3 linked regions of the Homo sapiens genome follow. The protein of the gene in region 2 purifies or fractionates together with the protein of the main gene of each other region. This does not show direct contact. Each region holds a gene or a part of one and is shown on either strand. Other genes may lie near its edges. The genes, in order: COLGALT1, COL6A2 and RNASE4.

Region 1 (3,648 bases), on a different chromosome or scaffold from region 2:
ATCACTTTGCTCACTTGACTCTTTGCTTTTTCTTTTCTGCTTTTTGTTTGTTTGTTTTAAGAGATGGGCTGGATGTGGTGGCTCACACCTATAATCCCAGCACTTTGGGAGGCCGAGGCAGCTGGATCACCTGAGGTCAGGACTTTAGAGACCAGCCTGGCCAACATGGCGAAACCCCGTCTCTACTAAAATTACAAAAATTAGCCAGGCATGATGGCGGGGGCCTGTAATCCCAGCTACCCAGGAGGCTGAGGCAGAAGAATTGCTTGAACCCAGGAGGAGGAGGCTGCAGTGAGCCGAGATTGTGCCACTGCACTCCAACCTGGGCAACAGAGACTCTGTCTCAAAAAACAAGAAAAAAGAAAATCAGGAGAATATAGAAAAGTATGAAGGCTGAAATAACATTTGGGGTTGATCATAGAAAACTGTGTAATGGGTTCAATGTATATTATTTAGGGGATGGACGCCCCAAAATCTCTGACTTCACCACTTCACAATCTATGCATGTAACAGAATTACACTTGTGCTCCATAAGTTTATACAAATTAAAAAATAATAGTAATATTCAACCTATAAGTCTGTTTTTTTTTTTTTTTTTTTTTTTTTGAGACAGAGTCTCATACTGTGGCCCAGGTTGGAGTGCAGTGGCGTGATCTTGGCTCGAGAAAAAAATAAAAAGACTCAACTGTTCCCTTCCCCATGAGACAATGTCCCCACAGGAGGAGGAAGTGCAAGTCAGGCCTCAGCAATTCAATGTGGCCACCACCCCCCAGCCCCTGACCCCTTCCTCCTGCTTCTTGGAAGTGACCCAAAGGTTTGGCCATTACATATGATGGTGATAAAAACAGACGTGACACGGCCAGGCACGGTGGCCCATGCCTGTAATCCCAGCACTTTGGGAGGCCGAGGCAGGAAGATCACTTGAGCCCAGGGGTTGGAGACCAGCCTGGGCAACATAGCAAGACCCCGTCTCTACAAAAATATTTTTTATTTGTTATTTTTTAAAAATATTTATTTATGTATTTATTTATGAGATGGAGTCTCACTGTGTCGCCCAGTGACTGGAGTGCAGTGGCACGATCTCGGCTCACTGCAACCTCTGCCTCCTAGGTTCAAGAAATCCTCCTGCCTCAGCCTCCCAGGTAGCCGGGATTACAGGCACCTGCCACCACGCCCGGCTAATTTTTGTATTTTTAGTAGAGATGGAGTCTCACCATATTGACCAGGCTGGTCTCGACCTCCTGACCTCAAGTGATCCACCCGCCTTGGCCTCCTAAAGTGCTGGGATTATAGGCATGAGCCACCATGCCTGGCTTCCACAAAAATAAAAATAAAAAATTAGCCGGGCGTGGTGGTGGGTGCCTGTGGTCCCAGCTACTCAGGAGGCTGTGGCACGGGAATCGCTTGAACCCAGGAGGCAGAGGTTGCAGTGAGCCGATATTGCGGCACTTCACTCCAGCCTGGGCACCAGAGTGAGTCTCTGTCTCAAAAAAATAAAAAAATAAAAATGGACTTGACCCAAGTGTCCAAACACAGGGGACAACTGGGGACAGAAAAGCCCATTCATTCCTAGTGCTGAGGATCAAATGAATCCCAGCTCCTCCTCCACTGACCAACCATATCACCTCAAGCAACTCATCTCCCCTCTCTAAGCCTCAGTTTACCCTTCTGCAAAACAACATTAAGGATGGTCCTGGCATCCTGCTGCTCCGCCTTCCCTGGGGATACCCAGACCTGCCTGTGATCCATATCCGGCCGGCTGAGAAACTTACCAGGATGTAATCAGCCCACATGTCTCGAGCTGATTTCAGGGCTGCCTGGCGCAACTTCATGACATGCTCGTAGCGTGAGTCAGACCAGTGTTTCGGGCCTTCCTCGTCCGGGTAGGACCTATGGGGAGGCAGCTGTGATGTGGACATCACAAGGCACTATCAAAGCCCAGCGAGGGCCTGAGCTGCCTTCGGGGTACTCAGAGAGAGCTTCCTGGAGGAGGGGACGTGTAAGCTGATCTGAGGGATGGGAAAAAGTAAACGACGAGGAAAGAGAAGTGGGGAGAATGTTCCTGGCCGGAGGTACAGCCTGTGCAAAGGCCTGGAGGGAAGAAAGCCCGAGGCACACTGGAGGGAAGGAAGGAAGGAAGCTCAGTGGGGTCCAGTGCAGTGGCCCACGCCTGCGATCCCAGCACTTTGGGAGGCAGAGGTGGGAGGATCGCTTGAGGCCAGCACTTTGAGACCAGCCTGGGCAACACAGTGAGACCCTATCTCTACAAAAAATACAAAAACATTAGCTAGGCATGGTTACATGTGCCTGTAGTCCCAGCTACTCAGGAGGCTGAGGCGGGAGGATGGCTTGAGCCCAGGAGTTAAAGGCTGCAGTAAGCTGTGTTCACTCCACTGCACTCCAGCCTGGGTGAGGGAGTGAGACCCTGTCTCAAAAAAAAAACAAAAACCCAGAAAGGAACTGGGTGGGGGCAGGGAGTCCATGCTGCCCAGGGCTTTAGGGAGTAGATAAACAGCAAAGCCAGTGCTGGGACCAAGACTGAGTCAGTGAGCCAGGGAACAAAGCAGTGGGCGTCCCCAGAAGAAAAAGGGAGTGAAAGAATTCTAGGTACAGGGAACGGCTTGGGCAAAGGTCTGAGAAGAGGATTATGGCCTATTTGTAAAGCTGAGGGAGGCTCAGAGTAGCTTAATGCTGCCTGGCTGGGCTGGAGGCAGGGACTGAGGGCCTGTAATTGTTCTGGGGCAATGGGGAGCCATAGAGGGTGTGTGAGCAGAGGCAAAGCCCAATCAGACTAGGAGCAGGGGAAAGATGCTCACCTGGGCTCCTCTGCTGGCCGCCACTCCACGGAATGGTACAAACTCTTCACGGCCACCAGCCACTCCCGCAGCACAGTTGACGTGTTATCCATGTTGTGGTCCGTAGCCACCCTGCAGGGAGAGGGGACAGGCAGCGTACTTGGGGAGACTGAGGCAGGACCAGGCAGCAGTGAGGCAAGTCAAGGACCACCATCCCCAACTGGCCTCCCACCAGCTATGTATCCCTGGACAGGACACTTCTCCCTTTCCTTTGTTTTTTTTTGAGACAGAGTCTCGCTCTGTTGCCCAGGCTGGAGTGCAGTGGCGCGATCTCGGCTCACTGCAAGCTCCGCCTCCCGGGTTCACGCCTTCTCCTGTCTCAGCCTCCCAAGTAGCTGGGACTACAGGCGCCCGCCACCACACCCGGCTAATTTTTTTGTATTTTTAGTAGAGACGGGGTTTCACCATGTTGGCCAGGCTGGTCTCGATCTCCTGACCTCGTGATCCGCCCACCTTGGCCTCCCAAAGTGCTGGACTTAACAAGCGTGAGCCACCGCGCCCGGCCCATTTCTCCCTTTCCATGTCAGTTTCCTCATCTGTAACATGGGGGTGGGAACAGGACCCAGTTTACTGGGAAGTGGAAGGATTAAACAAGCTGATTTTGGAAAGACCCATTAGTGATTGGCTGTTTTATTACTGAGCATCTAAGATCTTGCAAACCACATTCACTAACAAATATGTGTCACTTAATTTTTTTTTTCTTTTGAGACAGAGTCTTGCTCTGTCACCCAGGCTAGAGTGCAGTGGCACAATCTTGGTTCACTGCAATCTCCGCCTACCAGGTCCAAGCAAT
Region 2 (3,748 bases):
GGCCGGGGCTACGGGGACCCCGTGGGAGGAGCTGGAGAGGTGCAGGCCCAGGGCGTCGTCCGAGTGAGCAGCGGTGCTGGCCGTGTGGGACCCGGGCCCGCTTAGCACCATGGACGGGGTGGGCTCACGACCCTCGACTGCGGGGCCCGGGCGGCGGCGCTAGCAGATCCAGCGGATGAAGCGGTCGAAGAAGCCGGGTTGCGCCAGGCTGTCATAGTCCTTCTCGTGGAACACGGCGGCGCGGTCACCCAGGCTGAGCGTGGTGAGCACGTCCATGTCCACGTCGCTGCCCAAGGCCAGCACGGTGGGTACCACGTTCTGCTTGCGCATGGAGTGCGCCGACTCGTGCAGACTGTCGTTGCCCGTGACGCCGTCCGTGAGGAACACGAAGGACAGCTCTGCGTGCCTCCGGGCCCCGCCACGCGGGCTGCGCACGATGGCATTGATGGCGTGCACCACGCCTGCGCCCACGTGCGAGAAGGAGTTCAGGTATTGTGTGGTCTCCAGCGCCTCGTGGATGGCCGTGAGGTTGTGGCTCAGCGGGAAGGCCACCTGCTGCTCGCCGGGGCCACCAAACTGCAGCAGCGCCACGCGTGCGTTGAGAGGGTCGTCGTCCCTCCGGGCCAGCGTCAGCCGCCGCGCCACCTGCTCCACGAAGCGCCGGGCCTTGTGGAAGTTCTGCTCACCCAGCCGCTCGGAGCCGTCCAGCAGGAAGACGATGTCCACGGGCCGCTGCGTGCACTGTGCCACGGACAGCTCTGTGGGGAGACGCAGGTGCGGGCTGGGCGGAGGGGAGGTGGGCAGGACCGGGCAGGTGCCAGCCCCGCACCTGTGCCCTTCCATTCGCACCCTGCCTGCAACCTCACAGACCACTGGGCTCTGCGGGGGCGTTTCTGCAGGGCAGCCCTGGGTGTGGGTCCTTAGCCCAAGACACTTTCAGGCGGCACTGCTGGGAGCCGCCATCTCCTCTGCTGGTGCTCCCAGGCCTGAGACCCTGACACAGGCCCCAGGCCCTGTCCACCTGCTGAGCACCATCCCTGCACAGGCTGCCCTCCTGGGAGGGAAGGGGCCCAAAGCATCCTTTCATGGCTCAAGAATTTGCTGCCCACAAAAGGGCCACTGTCTGTGTAGTGTGGGAGGTACTTAAGGAGGACCCTGGCTCTGACACCCCCAGCCTGACCCCTCAATCGCTGGGTCCCAGAGCTGCTCAGAACACCTAGAGCTGGCTGGGCCACGTCCCTCCCGGAAAGACCAGGAGCCCCTGACTCTTCTGATTGGCCATGGTGGGGAGCAGTGGGCACAGGGGCAGCCAGACCTTCTGTGGCAGCCCAGGTGGGTTCTGCCCTATGACTCTGTTACCAAGTGGGGCCCCCACCTGCCTGGGTGGTCACCAGCCCTGGGCATCGGGGACAGCTTGGGGGCCTGGCCATAGCCACAACCCAGGCCAGGCTGCCTACCACACGTGTGGGTGTCACGTGGGGCCAGAGACCACAGGACAGGACACGGACAGTCCTTGCGTGGACCTGGCCCTGTGGCCTCACCAAGACCTCAGCTCCTGGGATGGGGGAGGGGAGGGACAGAGCCAGTTTCCCCAAGGGTGTCTGCTTCTCAGCCCAACCCCTGGACGTCGTCACAGCTGGTACATGGACCCCCAGGAATGCACACAGAGGACCCTGACCCGAAACTCGGTTTCTGGGGGCCCTGGAGGTGCAACGGTCCAGCCCCGCAGGCAGTGAGCAAAGCTCTGAACACAGCAGGGTGACCTCACGCTGCACCGCAGCCTTCACAGAACGCTTGAGACATGGACGCCGTCTGAGCACGCACGAGCTGGCAGATGGGGTTCCCTCAGTGAGCTTATGAGTGACGCAGCTCATTCAGTGAAAGGAAGGGCAGCCTCCCTGTTAAGGCCACACCTAGGAACCGGCTTAAATGTCCAGAAACTCCTCAGGTACCGCTGGGCTTCCCAAACCCCCTCAAAACTAATAACATTTTCACTGCTGTCACCAAACATATGGAGACAGACATGCAAGGGGCAGCTGGTTTTGGGGGTCTCTGTCCATTCATCAGTGTCTGTGGGGCCTGGAGGAGACGGGGAAGCTGTGGGGGCCGGCCAGGCACAGGGAGGCTGAGGCTGTTGGGATGTCTGTGGACTCTGCTCTCCTCCTCCTGTGGAGGATCCTTCATCCCCACAGTGGGAAGACCAGCCTGGCCTGCCCTGTGCAGTGGGTGTGGGGACGAGAACCTGGCCCTGAGAAATGGTCACAGCCGTGCCCGGCAGGAGCCCAGCCTGGATGAGGGCTCCTGCAGTCAGAACGTCGGGGTCAGCTCGCCGTGGGGGCCGCTCCCTTTGGATGGTGATCCCTGCCGCTCCCCAACATTGTGGACCCTGGGATTCTCTGCTCAGTCCTCTGAGGACCGCAGAGGTTGTGCCTGGTGGATGCTCCCCCGACTGTGCTTTTGGAGACCCAGAGGTTGGGCTGGAAGGGTGCAGACACCCCGGGATCAGGGCTGCTGGCAGGCAGCTGTGGCCATTCGCCCTACTGTGCATGACACCAGCCCAGATACGTCATGGTGCCAGGACTGCCAGCTTCCCCCAGGACTATCTGCTGCCCAACCGGAAGCCTTCACCTGCCACCAGGTGGGCCGTGAGCGCCCACGAGTCACCATGCACGGGATTAGTGCCCACACCCAGCGAGGCTCACCAGCCTCTGGGGCCTGTTTCCGAGGCTCCGCTGGAACCTGGTGCTGGAACATCCTCCAGCACCTGGGCAGCACCCTCCCTCAGCCCCATCCCAGACGCACGGCAGCCCAGCTGGGCCGCTAAGTAAGGGCCTCCAAAGACTTCCACACCCAAACCCTGGAGCCTGTGAGGGTGACCTGATGCAGCAAAGAAGGACTCTGCAGACGGGAGTGAGTTAAGGGTCTTGCGAGGTCATTCTGGACTTGGGGTGGGCCTTAAATTCAATGACCAGGGTTCTTATAAAGAGAGCGGCCACAGGAAGACGGAGGAGAGACTGGAAGATGCAGCCGCAGCAAGGGACACGGTGGCCACCAGCATGGGAAGAGGCTGGGAGCTGCCCCAGAGCCCCTGGAAGGACTGTAGCCCCGCTGACCCCGATTCCAGATCTCTGGCCTCCACTGAGAGCCAGCCTGTCGGGGGCAGCCCTGGGAAGCTAGTGTGGCAGGGAGGGCCCAGCCCGGCTGGGCGGGTGCCCGGGCTTTAGCAGAGGGCCAGCGCGGTCTCGGGGTCCCCCACGATGTCCCTGTGCACCAGCTTAAAGGTGTCAATGAACAGCTCCATCCAGTCCTGCCGCTCTACCCCGGTGGCGAACTTGGCCCGCTCGGCGGTGTAGACCAGCACGGCCACCAGCTGGGAGTAGGCGGCCGGGTCCTGCGTGAGCTCCGTGGCGTTTAGCAACTGTTGGATCAGGGGAATGGTCCTGGGGAAGGTGGCGTCCGGCCCCTCTTCCGTGCGGAGGAAGGTGACCGGGGGCTCGCCGCCAGGCCACGGTGCATCTGCAAGGGAGCGTCCAGAGAAGACTGTAAGGCCTGCGGTGGGCGTCGGCCTAGAGCTCCTCCTCGGGCAGCCGCTCAGCGAGGCCAGAGTGAAGAGCGGCATTTGGGCTGGCGAGTCGGTAGAGGAAATGCAGGTGGAGCGGGTGTGTGGCTCGGCCTTGGCAGGAGGCGTGGGGGCAGTGAGCACAGGGACAGGAAGCTGGCAGGGAGCTAGGAGACCCGCACGGTGGCA
Region 3 (3,648 bases), on a different chromosome or scaffold from region 2:
GTACCGCTTTTCGGGACTCAGAGGTGGTGTTGCTTGAGCTAAGCCTGGAAAGACAGGTCAGTTTTCTCCTTGCTTATGAAGGGTTCAAAGTCTGACTCCACCATTCATCTGCTGTTTGTTCTTGGAGTTTCCTCATGAGCAGAGCATATTTACATAATGCCTACCTCACACAGTCCTGGTGTTGGTTGAATGTAGTCATGTATGTGAGAGCTTCACAAAATGAAAGATTGCACTGAATATTATAATTATTGTGATTTCAAGTGCATTTGTTTTACTAGCAGGCAGCCTGTCTTTTCTTGACACCTTCTCAAGTGCAGCCAGACTGAATACTTGGCAGCTAGGTGGGTGACAACAGAGGATTGAGGATTTTTAAAAAGATAACACTGTCCTAGATCCAACACCACTGTGGGCAAATGCTGGGGGTCTGTGAAACAGTTGGTACCCTGCTGCTGTCTGATATTGGAAACTATGAGATCTATAAGGTGATCCTGGTGACCTTTGGCCCACTGTTTTTACGCAAGCAATGGATCTACAGCCCTGCTTTGATGATGGAGATAAGCAATTTTGCAACTACATTACAAGGATCAGAAGATTGAATGTTCAGGGTTAGTCTCTTGTGGACAGGTAAAGATGGAAGAAGGAGAAACCCAGGAAACATGGCAAGCCTGCTTCTGGGGGTTAGAAGCTGAGAAGTTGAGTGTAGGGGGAGGGGCAGTGTACTAATAGCTGTCACACAACCTTCTCTGGAAGTGCTTTCCTGGCTGTATGAAATCGATGGAATAACGTGCTTAGCATCCGTTCATGAAACCAAATGATGTGATACGATAAATAGGATGTGATATGATAAATGATAAATAGTACAGTGGAAAAGCATCCTACTGGAAGACCATATCTTACTCTGTGACATCTTCCAAGGCAGTTCTTGGAGTTGGCCCAGGGAGATCAGAGATGCTATCTTATGGATCCAGACTATTATGTGTGAATAGGGAAACCTCAGTCCTGCCATGAACAAGAGTAAGCACCACAGACAGCAGAAAAGGGCAACTTTTGGACAGAAGGCCATGTTTCTCAAACTTTGTCTTCCAGAACAAATCTCTAATCCATTCAGGTGGGTTAATATCTAACCCAATCATGCCCAGCGAAAAGGTGAATGACCCTCCTCGTTTGTTCAAGAGCAGTGTCCTTGGTTTTCATGTCCCTGCCAGGACTGGGACACTATATATTAGGAACACTATATAATCAGAACCTGGAGAGGCCTCCAGGTTCACACAACTGGAACCCATCTCCAGGAACAAACAGCTGGAACCCATCTCCCGTTGAAGGGAAACTGCCAGATTTTTGTAAGATTCTTCCTCCTGGGTAAACTATTGTTCAATTTGTTTTATATATTATTTCTAGCCATCCATCCATTTTAATGAAACCATTTTCCTCCCTTTAAAGCCTCCAGGCTCAAGCTCATGAATTAAAAAGAAAATGGATCAGATTCTAAAGTTTAAAATGAAAACAGGTTTCTTTTGGGATGGCCTATGTGTGGATAAAGAGAAATTAGTGAGACTGGGAGGAAGTGGAAGTTTAGGAGGGATTTCTAAATTGTGATAAAATCCCCAAAGGCCTGGGGGAGCCATTTGCTGAAGGCCATCGGGAGTCCTCCCCCGTCGTCCACCCCTGTTACAGGCATTACACGTGGCTTAACAAGGAAAGAAACAGTATGTTTTTAGCATTGTTTCCTTCTAACCTTCCCTGCTAATTTCTCTTCTTAGAAAAGTTTTGGATGCTCTTTCAAACAAAGTGGAACACATCCCAAGATCAAAAGAAGGCTCACTGGCAGGTTGAAGGGAAGAAGGAAGGAAAAGCAATAAAGGGATGAATATGCCTTGGGTGTTAGGCTCTTACTTTGGGGGATTTTGCCCTAGGATGTATAAAAGTGTGAAGCCACATTGATGAAAATGATAACTATAGTTACTCATCATAAACTGTCAAGTTAACTCCCTGGTGTGTAAAATTTGATGAATCTTTTGAATACTGAACATTGCCTGTGGGGAGAGGGAGAGAATAATTCTTGTGAATACTAACAGATTCATTTGATACAGAAGATAAAGTTACTCTAAAGAACAGTTGGGGCCAGGTGTGGTGGCTCACACCTGTAATCCCCGCACTTTGGGAAGCCGAGGTAGCCGGATCAACTGAGGTCAGGAGTTCGAGACCAGCCTGGCCGACATGGCGAAACCCCGTCTCTACCAAATACACAAAATTAGCCAAGCGTGGTGGTGGCCGCCTGTAATCCCAGCTACTTGGGAGGCTGAGGCAGGAGAATTGCCTGAACCTGGGAGGTGGAGGTTGCAGTGAGCCAAGATAGCACCACTGCGATCTAGCCTGGGCGATAGAACAAGACTCTGTCTCAAAAAAAAAAAAAAAACAGGCCGGGCGCGGTGGCTCACGCCTGTAATCCCAGCACTTTGGGAGGCCGAGGCGGGTGGATCATGAGGTCAGGAGATCGAGACCATCCTGGCTAACAAGGTGAAACCCCGTCTCTACTAAAAATACAAAAAATTAGCCGGGCGCGGTGGCGGGCGCCTGTAGTCCCAGCTACTCGGGAGGCTGAGGCAGGAGAATGGCGTGAACCCGGGAGGCGGAGCTTGCAGTGAGCCGAGATTGCGCCACTGCAGTCCGCAGTCCGGCCTGGGCGACAGAGCGAGACTCCGTCTCAAAAAAAAAAAAAAAAAAAAAAAAAAAGAAAAGAAAAGAAAAAAAGGACAGAGAACAGCTGGGACTAATTCCACTGACAAAAAGCTGACAGACAGTTACGTGTTTGGGTACAGAAGGATATATCTATAGGACTTTTGCCACCAGATGTGAGGCTTTGCACCCTTGGCTTAGGCAGATTCACTTTTACACCACAAACGATCTGTCTCTTACTGGTTTTCTCCCAATTCCATTTTACCTTGCTTTTTGAGGAATTTAGAGTTGAATATATTGAGAAAGTTTTGAGTGAGGGAGCAGATGTTAGATATTGGTGGTTTTGGTGTACGCTTGCTGAGATTTGGTTCCTGGATGTCTTAGGGAATCAAGATTACAGGCCCCCAACTAAACTTATACAAAATTTGTCTCTGTAACTGAGGGTCACTGGACCTTTGCTATTGAAACTAGCAAAGCCTCTATTATGTTTAATGAGAACCATGAAACTTCAGATTTTTAGAGCTAGCAACTCTTTTATTTTCTTGATGAACAAACCTAGGCCTGGAGAGAAAAATGAAGTCAATTACTTAAAAAATATTAAGGGTTATAATAAGGCAAGCATGTTGATTCAAGGTGAATAATATGAGTTCTGTGGAATATACACCAGTAAGAAACACTAACAAGTAAATACTTCATTGTTCATCCACGATCACGTGGGTAATGGCATGTTTGGAAATGGCACCCGTGAAACCTGACAACAGGTCGGTCTTTATTTTGTGATATCCTTATGGGTAGATTCTGAACTTTGTGGCTTTTACTTTGGCACTTATATCTAATGAGGTGTCCTTGGTCTTAATATCTAATGCAGAGCGAGTTTGGACAGAGATTCTAAACAGGTTCACCAGCTCATACTCCCTTCTGTGAACAGCAATATCCCCACAAGTTATACAGCATTGGCACCTCCTGCAAGTA

Evidence for each region.
Region 1: the proteins of COL6A2 (region 2) and COLGALT1 purify together in Homo sapiens (affinity purification with mass spectrometry; one large-scale study listed by BioGRID and IntAct). This does not show direct contact.
Region 3: the proteins of COL6A2 (region 2) and RNASE4 purify together in Homo sapiens (co-immunoprecipitation; one large-scale study listed by IntAct). This does not show direct contact.

Annotation. Positions count from the first base shown.
Region 1 is NC_000019.10:17,558,590-17,562,237, reverse strand, and holds part of COLGALT1 (procollagen galactosyltransferase 1 precursor), read right to left. Parts: intron 2,928-3,648; coding exon 2,817-2,927; intron 1,891-2,816; coding exon 1,773-1,890; intron 1-1,772. UniProt on the Homo sapiens protein: Beta-galactosyltransferase that transfers beta-galactose to hydroxylysine residues of type I collagen. By acting on collagen glycosylation, facilitates the formation of collagen triple helix. Also involved in the biosynthesis of collagen type IV.
Region 2 is NC_000021.9:46,128,964-46,132,711, reverse strand, and holds part of COL6A2 (collagen alpha-2(VI) chain isoform 2C2 precursor), read right to left. Parts: exon of another isoform or gene 3,517-3,748; coding exon of another isoform or gene 3,221-3,516; exon of another isoform or gene 2,911-3,220; intron 759-2,910; coding exon 160-758; 3' UTR 1-159. UniProt on the Homo sapiens protein: Collagen VI acts as a cell-binding protein.
Region 3 is NC_000014.9:20,687,516-20,691,163, forward strand, and holds part of RNASE4 (ribonuclease 4 precursor), read left to right. Parts: intron 1-1,248; exon of another isoform or gene 1,249-1,359; intron 1,360-3,648.